Homo sapiens: one gene and its partners. The protein of the gene in region 1 interacts with the protein of each later gene in a biochemical or structural test. Each region holds a gene or a part of one and is shown on either strand. Other genes may lie near its edges.

Region 1 (5,896 bases):
GAGTTGGAGGGACTGGGACTGGGAGGAAGGAGGCCCTCACTCACCCCTACCCAGCAGGGTGCAGGGGTCCACTGCAGGGCCATCAGAGCCACTGCCCCTCCCACGGTCACCCATGCAGCTGCCTCTCTAGGCCTGAACTCTGTGGCTAGGACACACATGGCTACCTCAGTTTTAGTTTGAGTCCCAGGGTTATCCCCTAACTGGGCAAGTCTCTTCACCTCTCTGAACCTGTTTCTTTATCTATGAGCTGGGGAATGTGATGCTTTCCACATCAGGTTCCTTGTGGAGATGAAATAAGACAATTGCATAGTGCCTGGCATAAAGCACATACTTGTTGGATGAATGGCTGTCAGGGGAATTCCTGGGCCCCCAGTCCTGTATTTTCCCCCTCTGTGGGTGGTACACCTCGTACCATATGCTCCTCTGCTCTGAGAACCAGCCTGCTGCCCACTTGGTTGTTGAAGCCTCAGTGGATTTTTCAGCAGGATGGGGGTAACTACCTGCTTTGGGACACTCAACTTGGATGGAGGCAGGCGCTGAGTCCAGATGAGCAGGTGCCATCTCCTAGAGGCTCAGTTCTAGCTCTCTGCTGGTCTGGGGAGGACAGGCTGAGTGTGCAAGGACTGCCTGCTCCACCTGACTTGCTTCTCCCCATCACCTGGTTCTGAGCATAATTGCCACTCCTTCCAGAAAACCCTACTAACCCAGAAGGATAGTAATAAGTTACTATCCTTCCTCCACCCTGGGCTAGGCCAAGTGCCTCCTGTGTTCCCACAAGAGGCCTGAGAGAAGGAGGTTCTCCTATCGCCCCACAGGGAAGGTGGGCCTGAAGTTCCAGCTGGCCCTGTCCCATCCCACTCGGGGATGTGTGCCAGGGCACCTTGTGCTGGTCCTAGGGCCAACTGTGGTTTCCTCCTCCTCGATGGCTCCAGCTAGCTCCACCCCCTCCCCAACACCCCCACTCAGGCAGAGGGTGGGAGCAGCATGGGGACAATGGGCCCTGTGTCTGTGTTAGCAAGGACTCAGCCCTGCAGGGGTGGGGTGGGGGTGTTTTTGTCACCACCCATGGAGCCCATGACCTTTTAAGTACAAAAGTGGGGCAGCAGCTGAGGGGCTGCCCTGGTGCTTGTGGAAACTCCCTCCTTCTCCAGTCTGAGCCACTGGCAGCCTGGTCTTCAAGGGAGTCAATGAGAACAAGTGTGGGGGCAGGGGGAGCTGCTCTACAGTCGCCAGCCTCCCAGGCCCACCGGCCCTGAGCCTCTCCTGGAAGACTGAACCCCCTCCCCACCACGTCATCCTGGCACTGCTACCTCTGAGGGAGGCTGGGCCTCATGCATGAGCTTGAGGCCCACACCCTGCTGCTCCCCTCTGCCTGGCCTGTGGCAAACCTGGCTCATTTGTCTATGGCAACATGTACCCCTACCCCTAAGGTCTGGGGTCCATGGGGCCATCAGAGCAAGTTTCTGAGACACAGATGTGGCCATGAATCCCTGTAAGAACAGCTGAGGTCCAGGATAGAGAAGCCCAAGAGCCTTTCTGTGGCCCTGCTCCACCACCTCATCTCTCACCTCTGTCCTCTCACTCCTTCCATCTTGTCCTCCCTTCCCCTGGACCTTTCTTTTCTCTGAACTTGTGGTGCAAGACCTCACCTCTGGGCCACACTTCCTCTCCCTATACCCCTTTGCCTGCCTTACCATTCCTAGCCCTTCAGGTCTTGGCTTCAATACCCCTTCCTCCAGGAAGCACTCCTTGACTCCTTGTCTGAGTCATGTGACTACTCTGGGCTCCTTTGGCCCCTGGCTTCCCCTAGCCCAGAACTTCTAAGTGCCTTTCCCCTGCCAGAATGGGCACTGCCTGGAAGGTGGTAAGCATCTGGCTCCAGGGATGCCAGCCAGGCAGGGTAGGGAATAGAGCAAGATGGGATTGGGGTAGATAGTGAGGGAGAAGCTGGGGCACATCCTTCCCTCTGGTTCAGTGAAGCCTCTCCCTGCCTTGGCCCCTTTTCTTTCATGTTGAGAGGGTGGACAAAGGCAGGCCCAGGAGGCAATGGTCCCACATGCTGGGTCCCATGGTTCTGGCTCCATCACAGACCATCCCAGTCTCCTTGCCCAAACTCTGTGGCCCAGAGATGGCTCTGGATACCTCAGTCATCCCCACTTGGCTACTCCTTATGCCATGGCAAAACAAGGCCCTAGAATAGCCTGACCCCCTCACTCTTCTTGAGGACAGGACCAGAGATATGACTTCTATCACACACAGAAAGGTGACTGGGCAGACAGGCCTGCAGCCTAAGTTCTGCTAGAAGCACCACAGGATGGCCAGGAGAGAACTTCAGGCTTGGATAGGGCACTCAGAGGAGTGTCCCATAGCCTGAGGTCACTCCACAGCCTGAGACTGCCACCAATCTCCCCCGCTGCAAGCACAGTGACTTCTTTCTGGTCTGGCATCACTGAGCACCAGAGTGAACTCCAGCTGGCTGTGTGATAGCCGCAAACCAAGGCCTAGCCCAGATCCTGGACATCATAGGCACCTTGGTCCAGAATCCAGGATTGCCCGGAGTAGAGACAGAGCCCACACCAGGTGCTCATCATCTGAGGAACATGGGATGGGGTATGGATGTGGTCCAGAGAAAACTTCTGCTTCAGTCTCTGTCTTGGGTATCTGAGAGCCCCAGTGAGGACATTCAGTGCAGGTGAACCTGCATGCTGGCCCCTCTGCCCTGGGCTCACTCTGAGCCAGGCCAGGCCAGGCAGTGTCTGTACATACCTGGATCTCAGGATCGATGTGGATCCTGTGTGCCTGAGCCTTGCTGTCATCAGGGGCACTGGGCCAGCTCCTACCCTCAGGCCTGTGGCAGAAATTGTGATGGTCAGATATGTCTCCTACCACGCCCACCATGCCTGGGAGCCAGGATCAAGAGGGGCTGGGCTCTGGGCTGTGCCCTGCAGGTAGAAGAACACCACTCCAGTGCTTTCCCCTGTACCACAATGGTGACTGTTGTGGCAATGAGCCACAACTCTAGCTGCCATCCTCCTGGGGTAGGGCTATATGCTTCTGTCCCCATCGGCTGCCCAATCCCTCTCTAGTCTGGTTCCTGGAGAGGCTGCAGGAGAAGCCCTGTGTCTTCCCTAATCTTCCACCCTCTTCGTGGCCTACAGAAGCTCAGCTCAAAGAGGCCCAGCTTATAGCACTGCAAGCCAGGCCTCACACATTGACCAGCTAGAAGCCTATCCACGCATCCTCTGGGCATCTACAGCCTCTGGTGGGGTGTGGGGTCAGGCGTCCGTCGGCTCTGGGGTAGGTGGAATGGAGGCTCTGAGGGGTGTGTCTTTCCTCCTGCTGCTGCTGCCGGCAGAGTCATCACTGAGTCTGCCCAGCCCAGATGGGAAACAGGCCATTAGGAAATTCCTGCTTCGCCATAGAAACCAAAAGCCAAACACCACTCAGGAGGGAGAAAAACATCATAAACCTGCCATAAGCAGGGCAGGCAGGCCGAGAGGCTACGTGCCTAAGGCCCAGCCCTGTCACTCAGTAGCCCTGTGAGAAGGCAGGCCAGGAAGGGGCATGGACCCTGGACTGGCAGGTGGGTATGAGGTGAGGCTGGTTAGACCAAAGGGGAATAATGCCCTCCAACTCACCCCACGAAGCCTCCTGAGGCTTCTCAAGGTCTCATTACTGACCTAGCAGCTTGCCCCTGCCTCTTCTGCCCCCTTCAGTTGAGGGTTTTAATAATCTATCTATGCCTATGGTCCATACTCACTCTGCACTTCCTCGCCTCTGCCCATTCCTTAGTCCCTTGGAGGCTACCTCTCTACTCCAGGCCTTTGGTATTAGAGCTCTGCTGCCCCAGGGCAACACCAGCCCCATAGTCCCTGTCTCTAGCCCCCTCAACCAGGCTCCCAAGTGGGTACCCTAACTCACAGCTCTAACTGTGGCCTCTATCTACTCAGAACTCCTCTGGGATAAAGCTGGGACATCTTGTGTGGCTATTTGGCCTTCAACTTCCCTGAAGTTCTGCCCAGAAGAGCAGTACAAGCCTGACGTCTAAGGTCGAAGGGCACAAAGTACCCAGAGCCATTAATGTGGCCCAATGCATCAGATCAGAATGAAGGGCTTAATCATGTGTCAACCCCCATCCCAGGCTGGGCTCTTTAAACAAAATGACAGGCAAAGGGTAGGCTGTGCAAAGGTACCTTGGGCCACATGTGATGGACAACAGGGACTCTATCAGTGGCCTCAGTGTTGGAGTTGATGTCAGAAAGGTCCTGGACCTATAGAACATGCCCAGGAAGTGTGATTTTGCTTGGATTGTTGGATGCCTGGCTTTGGGCTCAAAGCAAAAGAAGCCCAGTGGGGAAGCTGGGCCTTTGATACACTTTTCATTCTGTGGGGGAGTTGGTGGGGGGATTAGAGCTCTCTGTACACAAGAGGGCAGATAGGGAAGCTGGTCTGGGGTAGAACCCTGGGAGTGAGAGCACAGGGTAGCTCACTCCAGCCAGCTCAACAGGCTGATTTACTGCAGAGCCCTTGCTGTGTGGGTGTGTGTGGTGGGGGCGGGGAGGAGTGTCGTTGGGGGCCAGGCATAGGTCCTGGCATAGCAGGCAAGATAGGGAGCAGAGTCAGAAAGCTTGCAGGTGGGCAAGTGTCCAGGAGAAGAAATGTTGGCTCAGAAAGTCAAGGTGGCCCTCATGTCTTGATCCCCCAGAGTCTGCATGTGTGAGGGGGCTGCAGGGCAGGACTCAGGTTTTCACTCTGACTGAGCAGGCCTGGTACATCATCACTCAATGTCCAGAGCGCAAGATGGTCCATATTTTTGGTTGAGGAAGTTATGGGCTCAAGAGATTAAATCACTTTCTGGAGCACAGCATAGTTATCTCTCCCTCTCTCTCTTTTATGGGTAAAATTATGAGCATAATTCTCAACCCAGCTCTGTAATAGTAGAGAATGTGCTCTCATCTGCTCCATGGCCAGTGACATTTTGGGGCTGAAATGCTCAGAGTGGAACAGGTCAGTGGACCTCTGGCTCCATCCATGCCTGGTTTGGAACAAAGGACTGGGGAAGGAAGGAAGGAAGGAAGGAAAGAAGGAGGGGGACCTCCACCCCACCACCCTCCGCTGACATCATACACTCTGAGAAGCTCCTGACTCAGGCCCCCTCTGAGGCACTCCTCCCCACTACTCCACTACCACTAGGGCTGCCCTTGTTCAGCCACACAGAGTCAAGGCTGGAGGTGAGTCAGGGGCCAGGATCCCAGCCAAGTGGGGAAGCTTCAGAGGTCACTCATGGGCAGAGCAATGCTGACATTTCCCCCATCCAGCCTGTATCTCAGTCTGGAGGAGGGTGATGAATGTGATCCGTTAATGGGAAAGGAAACCCCGGGCTCATAGAGGTCATCTGGGCACCTAAGGCTCCAGAGGCTGGATGAGGACCAGCTTTGCTGAACTCCAAAGATGGAGCATCCTCACCGTGTGCCAGGGCCAAGCACAAACAGGGCTGACCTCACAGGCCTCTCCACCATGTTTAAAGGCTCCAAGCCAGTGGCTTACCTCCCACCCTGCCAGCTCAGAGGCATGGTTAGCTGTGTTGTGGTTTGGGGAGGCTTTGCCCACGTACTTCCACAGGGGGTCATGGAAATCCCCTCAGCAGTGAACACGGCAGAGCTGATAAGTTATGCCCGACTTCTGTGGATCAAGGTGGGCAGGGGAGTGGGGAGATCCCACTCAGCCAGGCTTAGGCCAACTGCTTCTCAGAGCTGAGTAAAGACCCAGGACCTGAGCAAGGCTGGGTCCCCCCACCCCCACCCCCAGTGGACCTTCTATCCCAGGATCATTTATGGAGCACAGATGGGCTTGGTAACCCCCTGTCCTCCCCTTCTTGATTGGCTGCAAAGCATTA
Region 2 (4,981 bases), on another chromosome or scaffold:
TTGTACTTTATATGAATTTTTTCATGTAATTCTCATAAACACATAAGATTCAAAGAGTAGTGGATGCTGATGACTGAAGCTAGAATGAGGGGTGGTGGACAGGGTTCATGTGCCTGAAATGGGGCTGTGATTTACGAAGTCAGTTCAGTGTGAACAAAGGTATCCCACTAGCATTAACTTCATAAGCCTACCAGCAACTTGCAATGTTTGTTCTCTTTTTTTTTTTTTCAAATCATTCTCAATTCTGCCTCGTCTGCTATTCCACAGGAACCCAGATCCTGTGACAAACATGATGTTCCTTCCAGGGTTCCCTTTTCTCTTTATGCCATGGGATCTTTACATCTTGTTAAATATCGGCCCTTCCAATTATCTTTTAGAAATATATATGAAACCCAAGGAAATCCCAGTATCTTGGCATCAAAGACATCATAAAAATATATTTGTATTTAAACAGCAGTGCTAGAGAAGGAAGAAATATCTCATGCCTATTTGATAATGTTCTAATTACAGTAGAAAATTTTTTAAAATCCTAAAGTAAAATAAAACACAAATGCCACCACATGGTCTTATTCTTACATATGAATATGCATAGGAGAGGAAATTGAAAAAGGTACTATCAATTGTATACAAGCAGAAAGGGGGGCAGAAGGCAGGTTTGAATCTTCTGCATCTTAGGCTAGTAACACATTGTAGCTCAATTCAATTCCATTTAAACACCTTCTGCCTACTCAATAGATACTAGAGTTGTTCAACGCTACACTATAATTTTATACTCTAAAATCTGCTATAGAAATTGTAATAATTCAGTAACCAAATTTTGACTAATCAATTATGAATCATTGTTAAATATACATGACTCAATGAGAAGAAATAATAGGATAGTGGACAACTAAGTGAAAAAGTCATTCATATCATACATCTGGAATGTTCTAAAAAGAACATAATGTGATATATTACAAATAGTAGGACTAGTCCAAAGCATACTATTCCTTTTGCTTTTATAAAAGATGGGAACAAAATCTTTCAATGCTCCACATACCATATAAATAGCTTCTCAAAGAGCTTTCTGTAGTTTTATAGGAAAACTAAGGCCCAGTGTTTATTTTTTAGGAAAAGCTCCAAAGAACTTGGGCCAACATATAATGGGGTGGGGGGAGGGGGGAGGGATAGCATTAGGAGATATACCTAATGCTAAATGACGAGTTAATGGGTGCAGCACACCAGCATGGCACATGTATACATATGTAACTAACCTGCACATTGTGCACATTACCCTAAAACTTAAAGTATAATAATAATAAAATAAAAATAAAAATAAAAAAATAAGGATCCAGACCTGATTCTATCATTTATGAGTACTATGTCCATAGGAAAGCCACTTCAACTCACTGTACTTTTTCTTACCTGTAAGAGATCAAACCTGATAAAGTATCAGGTTTATTCCAGCTCTAACACTCTGAAATGCCACAAAATGCACTCCCCAATAAATTAAGATTAAAGGAATGCCCAAACCCCAAACATGATCATTGTGATCATTTCTTATGAAACATAAGAATGAGACATAAGAATTTTATATGAGATACTGGCAGAATTTGCTGAGTCAGTCTCAGGCAACATTTAATAAGTAAATATGCAGCTAAGCAGTGGACTATAATGCTTTTACACAGCCAGAAAATAGCAATATTCCTAAAATTAATGAAAGCATACACAAATCCACTCAGGATGCTAGGACACAGGCAGCTGAATGATATGAGCTTATAATCTATTCTTCCCAGACTATTTATCTTATCACAGCAACACCCTGAAGCCACATGCAAAGGATGAACCAGACTCCCCAGTGCTCTATAGAACCATGAGTGAAGCAGCTCTGGTGAGAAAAAGGATGAAGCCTCTGATGATGGACAGAAAAGAAAGACAGAAAAATAGAGCCTCTATTAATGGACACTTCTATAACCATGAAGTAAGTGAGTTACAATTCCATTAATGTAATATAAAATAAGGTTCCCTGTTTCACTAACAATACCACCCAATTCAATTCACAATTTAAAGTCATAATAATAACAGTAGCATGTCTAACATCTTGGGGGCACTCTCTATGTGCTAGATATTAAAGTAAATGTGTTTTAAATAGATTTTTACTGAATTATCTTATTAATCACTAAAACAATCCTATGAAATAGGTACCATTATTTTCTTTACTTGACATATAAGCTAATTGAGGCTTATGGAGATTAAGCAATTTGTCTTAGATTATGCTACTCTTAAGTAGTAACTCTCAACCTGAACCCAGCTTTGTCTGACTCCAGAACACAAGTTTTTAACCACCATGATGGGTGAACTCTATCACTGTGCCAAGTATTAAAAACATGCAGATGAGGCAGCCGATGTCTCAGCCAGCACGGAGCTCAGGGATTGAGCAGGGAAACCAACATACCAACAATAATACTGGAATAATGTAAGTGCTACAAAGTGGTTGGATCAAAGGACATTTGAACGTGAACATTTAAATAAAAGGAAAAAGCCACAGGCCAATTTATTCCAATAAATCAAACTTCTCATGTTGCCATGTTCCAGGTCTTTTACCTATACACATACCGTTTTTATATAAGTGTAGTTGTAGTTTAGATACAATTCACATTCTGCTTTTTCACTGAATATGTGTTAAATTTATATGTGCCTTTCCATAGTGCTTGTAAGACATTACATTTTGCTGAAGGTAGGAAATATATCATCATTTTTTTCCAGAACTCAAATATTTTTCATGTGATGTACTTTAGCAATCATTCATCGCTCCATCTCATAAATACTTAGCACTTACACTGTGCCAGGTATCTTCTGAGGCCTTTAATAAGAAATAGGAACTCATTGCTTTGTAGGCTTTTTCCTGTAAGGATTTCTACTTTATTTCTTCTTCTTCTACCCTTGGGGGGTAACGATAGTGTGTCTTTGGAGCCTGGTGGGGAGAAATCTCTCTTCTCAATTATTTATTCATATCAGAATTTTAGGGTTCCAGAATCATTCTCATAGCTATAAAGTAGCATTGATAGTCCCCCACAGAGAGGTACCTACCAATTGTCCTGTTTCCCTCTTCACAGAAATTGTGTTGTATGTCATTATCTTGTGGGGTAATTTGTGTTGAAGAAGGAAAGCCACATTGCTCCAAGCAAGTGGCTTTCAGATTGGATCACTTGTGCTGGAAATGAAATTGACACTAGGTTGGCAGCACGGAATGGTGGTTAAATGCTTGGGCCCTGGAGCTTGACAGCCTGGTTTTACATTCTTGCTGAGCAAGTTTCATTCTTCTTACTTTACAAGGCTGTTGATGGGATGGAATGAAATGAGGTAAGTTCAGCATAAGAATAGTACCTGGCACAAAAGAACTCGGTCTACATTAGCTTATGTTGTTGCTGTTGATTGAATGAGCTCAAGCTGGGACTATAGATATTTTACACAAATGTCATTCACTGCAATTTAATAACTAGCAGAAAACAATACAAACAAAAAAGAAAAAACAAAGCATTCTATCAACAATTATACAATGACGGACATCTAGGAATTTTAGTGGATATGTTTCTTAAGTTGCTGTGTGTCGTAAGATATGTTTTTATACTATGAAGCCCCTTGTTAATGCCAATATTGTTAGGCTATGAATAACACACATATTAAAGGCTTAGATTGTCATATCTGGAGATTAGTTATGGTGAATATAACTTGACCAGTAGTATATTTCTATCAATGTGATAGTAAATGATAGCAGGTTTCATTATATGTTTTGGCCAACACAACTGATATAAAGACTATAGATTTAAATACTGCTCTGAAAAACAAATTCACTATATGTTGACATTTTAGAAGAGCTCTTAGAGATTAGTCTTACTATCTTATTTTATAAATGAAGTCATTTATCAAATATATGTTAAGTGAGTCAATAAAGATGTTAAATGAGTTGACAAAGTTGGAGTTCGTGGGCATTTAGTGGGCACTAAAATCTAGGTCTCCTGAATGGTAATCCATGTTATTGTCATAGTGCATGAAGCTTCTTCACATAAACAACATCAAACCACGTGTACAACATATCATATTCACCTTAGCGCAGGATGAACATGTGGTTTTTCAGGGCTCCATAGAAATCGTAAATGTCACAGAATAACTTATCAATGCTCTAAAATGTCTACAAATATTGAATTTTCTCATACTTATAAAAGTTTATCCTAGACACTCTCCACACATCTTCTCAGAAAACTTATTTACATATCCACATTTTTACTCACACAAATGCCGTGTGTGTGTGTGTGCGTGTTACATGTGTGGGTGTTATAAATGTTTGTGTCTGTATACTTTGATGTTAATTTACTGATCTCTCAATATAGGACTTATCTTTTTAACAGTCCAATGAGCCACCCCAAAACCCACCCATCTCTACATCTGCTGAACCCACCCCATTTCTACAGAGCCTTGGAATACTTGGAGATTGTGCATATAAATAAAATATGTGGAAATAAATCCTTACTTAATATCTCTATCCGTTTTTAAATATGCATCTGGTGACATTCTTTCTTACTTATTTTGAAATCTTAAACTGCACTAAAGAGGGGTGTAATTGTCCAGTGAAAATGTTATAAGCATCCTCAAATGGTGTTTTACCTAATTTACTCTAGAAACAATATAAAGCTGCTTAAAAGAACACATAATATTCAAAAACAACAAAGAAAAACAAACAAAAACAAAACAAATTTTTTAAATTAATGACCTTGGATTTTTTTTGCCCTATAAGAAGATTATGTTCAAGATATTGAATACCCTTAATATAATATAATTTTAAAGACTTATGTGACAATTCTTTTTCTAGACATCAATTTTCATTCCAGCCTTTGAATCAGAAACTAAGGTCAGAGTAAACAGTAACATGAGAACTGAAGAAGTAATAAAGCAACTTCTCCAAAAATTTAAGGTAACCTTTATCACTTAACTGAGCTATAAA
Region 3 (4,981 bases), on another chromosome or scaffold:
ATTCGAACGCAGGCATTTGGCTCCAGGGTCCTTGACTCTTCACCCCCGAGTGCTGGGTCACTCCTGGCAGGCCGTTTGTATAACATGTGGGTGTGAGTGCGCGCTGAAAGGGCCTCAGCACCCAAAGGGCAGGGGCGGGCAAAGCTGAGCTACCCACCCACCTTCTCCAGCTGCTCGATGCAGGGCGTGTGCACCACAATCTTGCAGGCTGCGCACTTTCTTCGAGACACTGACTTCTGCTGCAGGACAGGAAGAGAGGGCCCCTGAGGCACCAGGTAAGTCTATCTCGGAGGCTGCCTGCCCCAGCACAGCTGCCCTTTGTGTGCACTGGGAAGCCCCAGTCCTGGCATCCGGACAAAGCCCCTGCACCCCTCACCATCCTGGGGCGGCCCACAGCAGGGGTGCCAGGGAGCGGGCTCAATCCCACGTTCCCGGAAGGGCTGCGGCTACTGGCTCCACCAGCAGGGGGCGGCGTGCCCCTACGAGCACTCACCAGCATCCTGGCTACACAGTACTGCTCCCCAACGTAGCAGAAGTCCCCGGACACGTTGGTCTCGAACCAGATGTGCTCCCCATATGTCGCTGACTCCTAGCCACGGGATGGGCTTGCTCAGCACACGCTGGCCGCCCAGCCCTCCCTCCCATCAGCCCCCGCCCACCCGCCCTCTCCCAAGACAAACCCACTCCAGCGCCCCGATCGACCCTGCTCTGTTCCGTCTGCCCCACTGTCCCAACCCTTCCAGGCTTGGCTCTCCCAGCTGCCTTTAGTGCCTCCACCCGCCAGCTGCGCCTTGGCCAAGAGCCCAGAGGGTCTGGGACCCAGGGGTGTTCAGGCACTCACGCTCCAGTCCACTGTACTCCGGATCTGCCGCTCTGACTCGCTGCACGGGGCCCCAGGGGTGGGCGGAGGGGGGGCCAGGTGCTGGAGGCCCGACTTGGTGATGGCTTTCCTAGAGAGGAGAAGACAGCTGAGGAGGGGGCTGAGCACTTGCTGACCCTACTTCCTCCCACCTCCTGGGGCCTCTGCCCTTTCCGTGACCTCGGCAACAGGGAGGGCGGAGGAGCCTCCCAGCAGCCCCAGACACTAAGAGGCTCCCTGCAAGAGACATGGCCTTTTGGGGTACGCTGGCTTCAGGGTACTGCCCAGAGTGTTCCCAAGTGGGGAACCCTCAGCCAGGCAGAGCTTCAAGGCCCATGCCCAGGCCAGACCCACAGGAGGTCACACCACTCGCCCTGCTGGCCACAGCTATACCTACGCGAGCAGGGCGCTCCAGGCCTGGGGTCCGGCCGCCTTGCGCCGTAGGGCTACCTGGCGCCTGCGGGACAGTGGGCGCACACGGGTGGGCAGCATGGTGCCGGCGGTGGTGCCTGAGGCTCTTCGGCCCCCAGGGCCAGGGTGCTGGCCTGAGGGCCGCCGCTGGCTGAGGCGCCGATAGTAGCCGTGCAGGCCCCAGAGAGCGTGGTCATATACGGCATCCGCGGGGAGCAGGTGGGAGGAGGCTCGGCGCAGGTAGCGGGGTAGGGGCAACAGCGGCTGGGCGCCCCGAGGTGGGGGTGGCCCTGGTGTCTTGGTGCCTGGCTGGATGGCGCTCGATGCCTCGGCTACCACATCCTCCTGGACACCCTCCTCCTCATTCATGCCCACAAGCCCGGTCAACAGCAGGGGTGCACCCAGAAGCTGGGCCCCCACGGTGGTAGGCTGTGGAGTGAGCACCTTATCCACGATGAAGCGGGGGTTGCAGGAAGGGGGCACAGTGCTGGAGCGCCGGCGGCTGGAACCCTGGGCCCTCACCCCGCAACTCAGGAGGCAGCCCTGGAGCTGGGCGCTGGAGCGGCGCCGCTGTGCCAGTGAGGAGGAGGCCTGCCCAGCGGGGGAGCGACGCCGGGCCTTGCCTGTGGGCAGCCCCACGCTGCTGGGCCGCTGCTGCCCCTCTCCAGGGCCTGGCACCTTCCCCCGGAAATGTCTCCTAAAGAAAGTCTCCATGGCAGGCGGTTGGCTGTTGGGCACAGAGACCGGGAGCATCAGGAGCTGGATCAGGCCACGGTCTGTCCTGTGTCCGGGAGCCCATTCACAGCCTCTGCCCCATGAGAAGGGAAGCAACCAGGAGCCCATTCACAGCCTCTGCCCCATGAGAAGGGAAGCAACCCCTGAGGGAGGGAGGGGTCACTGCAGCCTCTGACCTCCATGTGAGGATCCCAGGGGTGCTCAGGGGAGCCCACGTTTACAGCTGTTGGGGCACTGATGCTCTCCCCCATTGCACCCTAGGGAGCCCTGGAGTCCCAGGGAGGTGGGTGCTTCAGGCTACCCCTTCTTCCCCCATCCAGGCACCAGAATCTACAGAGCTCTGGGCCTAAAGGCCTCCACCTGCCCTGCCGGAAGCTGATGGAAAAGAAAACAAAAAGAAAATGGGGAGTCGGTCTGCCTGGATGGACGGTGGGGCCCAGGGCAGGGCTTCCCACTTGCTGGGCCTTTGTTTTGCCACCAACATGGTGGGGGCAGGTTAGGTGTCCCCTCATGGGACATGGAGCAAACCAAGCTATAACAAAATGAGGCTCTCTGCAAAGGAACTTAATCCTGACAGGACCCCCAGAGTCTCTCAGCCCATAGCCTTGGGGTCAGGCTGAAGGTGACTCCTGGAAATAGAGAGGGTCTAATGTGTAGCTCAGGGGAGACCAGGTCTCAGGGAACTGGAGAGTCACTGTCTGGCTCTCCTGGGAGAGAGGCTGCTCAGTCTCCCTTCACACCCAGGGGGCCGTGACAATAGGCTTGGGCCAAAAGCAAAGCCTTCTGGATTCTGGGTGTGTGCGTGCCTGTATGTCTGAAGTGCTGATGGTAAGAACTTTCTGGTGCTCGACTGCTCTGTCTCACCTTTCTGAAGGGACAAAGTACGGATACCCCAGGGTGAAGCTGGGTGATGCCGGGAAACCCTTCTGACTCTGCTCCTGATGGAGCCTGTGACTGCACATTCTTCTGCGGCCCTGATGCTGGAAGCCCCCATACTCACAATTCCAAACGCTGCACAGCCCAGAGCTCCCTCCTGCAGGCAGGCAGGAGCTGTGGGCATCATCCTAGCTCCCACCTGGACCTGGCCTCCATGGACCCATCCTGAACTCATGCTTTGCTCCCTCTGCCAGCTCACCTCAGCCCTGCCTACCCTTCTTCACAGCCAGCATCGAGCTCCTGTGCCCTACCTCTCCTAACAGTGGGGGAAGGGCAGCCTGCCTGGCATGGATCAGGCTGGCGATGCCTCCAGGTACCTGAGGCCACCTGTGCCCCACAGCAGGTGATCTCCTGGGCCCTGGTCCTGGGGAGAGACTGGTGGGGGATGCATCCTAACCGCTGGCAGCCACAGAGGTCAAGGTCACAGCCCTGGGACAGTGCTGCCTGGGGCTGACAGAAGAAGCCCTGTGGTCCCCTGAAGGCTGGCATTAATTAGGCATGGTGGGTGATGCCCTGGACGCATGTTGGGCAGGAGGAAGGATGAAGGCAAAGATGAAGGGCTGGAGGAGTCAGGCCCAGGCCGCACGTCTAGCACCTTCTCCTTCCATACACTGCACTGATTTGCTACTGCCCTGCAGGTCTTGAGCAGCTTCAGGCCAGGTACAGGGGTGTTGGGGGAGAGATGGACAGGGTGGAGGTGCCTAGGGAAGCAGAGTTCTGCACAGCTCAGCTCTTGGTCTCTGCCTATTGGAGTTTCCAGCTGCCTCAGATGACAGGGAGGTCAGGGCAGTGCTCTTATGACCCCAAATAGTGCCCCACTCAAAGCAGACCACCTGGGCCGGAGGGAGCTGCAGGGGCAGGACAGCAGGCATGGGTGGAGAGCGCTGGGTCTCCCCCAAAATCACCAGTGTCACGGCTGACATTTACTGAGCCCCTATGTGTCAGGCACTGTGCTAAGCCCCTGACAAACACTTAGATCATTTCATAAACTGCAACCCCAAGGAATAGGTACTGCATCACACTGCATTCCTGATGAGGAAGTTGACGCAGAGGTGACCGCCTAGAGTCCACGGCAAGTCAGTGTGGAGTCAGTGCTGGAGTCCAAGTCTACCTAACGGCAAAGCCTGCGTCCCAGAAATGGGGTGGGTTGCAGGGTCCTTCCTCCTGGAACATGAGGCTGGGATGGGGTAGGAAAGGGAACCAGATAGGGAATAATAACGAACACCTGCTACGTGACAGGCCCTGGGCTAAGTACTTTATCATCTCGTGTAATCCTCACCACAGCCCTGTGAGGTAAGCAGGACCTGCAGCTCCATTCTAGAGATGGGGAAACTGAGGCTTCAAGAGGGCCAGTAACATGCCACAGTCCCACGGCCAGTCAGCGGCATTCGGGACCTGAACCCGGGTCTTCCCGACCTGGGGCCTGCTTTGTGTCAGGGGAAGAGGAGCCTGAAGGCCCAACTGCCCCCTGCCGTCAGGGCACCGGCCTGCCAGCCCTCCCCAGGGTGTCAGCTTTCCTGCCTGCCTGGTCAGGCCGCCCTGTGACAGCTGCCCAGCCTGGAGGAGATTAGTCACCCGGACACACCGCCTGATGCTACTGTCACCCAGAAAACAAAAGGCCACAGTCAGTGGGGGGAGGTGCCGCTGCACCCGTGGGCAGCGGTGAGGGCTGAGCCCAGCTTGCGGCCCCAGACCTGCACTGACAACAGGGGCCAGGACCCCCTCGAGAGACAAGGGCGGCTTACAGGAGCTCCTGTGGTGCCCGGCTCCACACACTGCCAGGCAGCCCAGGTCCACATCTGTCCAGGAGTCTCCTCGGCGGCCGATGATGCCGCCCCTCCCAGCAGAGTGGGGTGGGCAAGGCCGGCAGTGCTGTGTGACTGTGTGCAAGTTGGCCCCTCACGGGCCTCAGTTTCCCTGTGTGTCTGGGGAGGCTGTCAGAGTGGCTGAGCTGACAATTTGTCACAGGCTCTCCTGCTGGGCACCCATGCCTCCGTGCTCCCATGCCCCTCCCCGCAGGCCTGAGTTTCCTGTTCCTCT

Evidence for each region. Proteins that work in one complex are often made in the same cells at the same time.
Region 2: the proteins of PDLIM4 (region 1) and RASSF6 interact in a test that uses a peptide from one of them, tested with the Homo sapiens proteins (one large-scale study listed by IntAct).
Region 3: the proteins of PDLIM4 (region 1) and DGKZ interact in a test that uses a peptide from one of them, tested with the Homo sapiens proteins (one large-scale study listed by IntAct).

The regions. Positions count from the first base shown.
Region 1 is NC_000005.10:132,263,416-132,269,311, reverse strand, and holds part of PDLIM4 (PDZ and LIM domain protein 4), read right to left. Parts: intron 2,849-5,896; coding exon 2,767-2,848; intron 1-2,766.
Region 2 is NC_000004.12:73,582,159-73,587,139, reverse strand, and holds part of RASSF6 (ras association domain-containing protein 6), read left to right. Parts: intron 1-1,775; coding exon 1,776-1,960; intron 1,961-2,306; coding exon of another isoform or gene 2,307-2,321; exon of another isoform or gene 2,322-4,534; intron 4,535-4,849; coding exon 4,850-4,951; intron 4,952-4,981.
Region 3 is NC_000011.10:46,363,260-46,368,240, reverse strand, and holds part of DGKZ (diacylglycerol kinase zeta), read right to left. Parts: intron 1,998-4,981; exon of another isoform or gene 1,985-1,997; coding exon of another isoform or gene 1,257-1,984; intron 951-1,256; coding exon 842-950; intron 590-841; coding exon 494-589; intron 240-493; coding exon of another isoform or gene 237-239; coding exon 162-236; intron 1-161. UniProt on the Homo sapiens protein: Diacylglycerol kinase that converts diacylglycerol/DAG into phosphatidic acid/phosphatidate/PA and regulates the respective levels of these two bioactive lipids.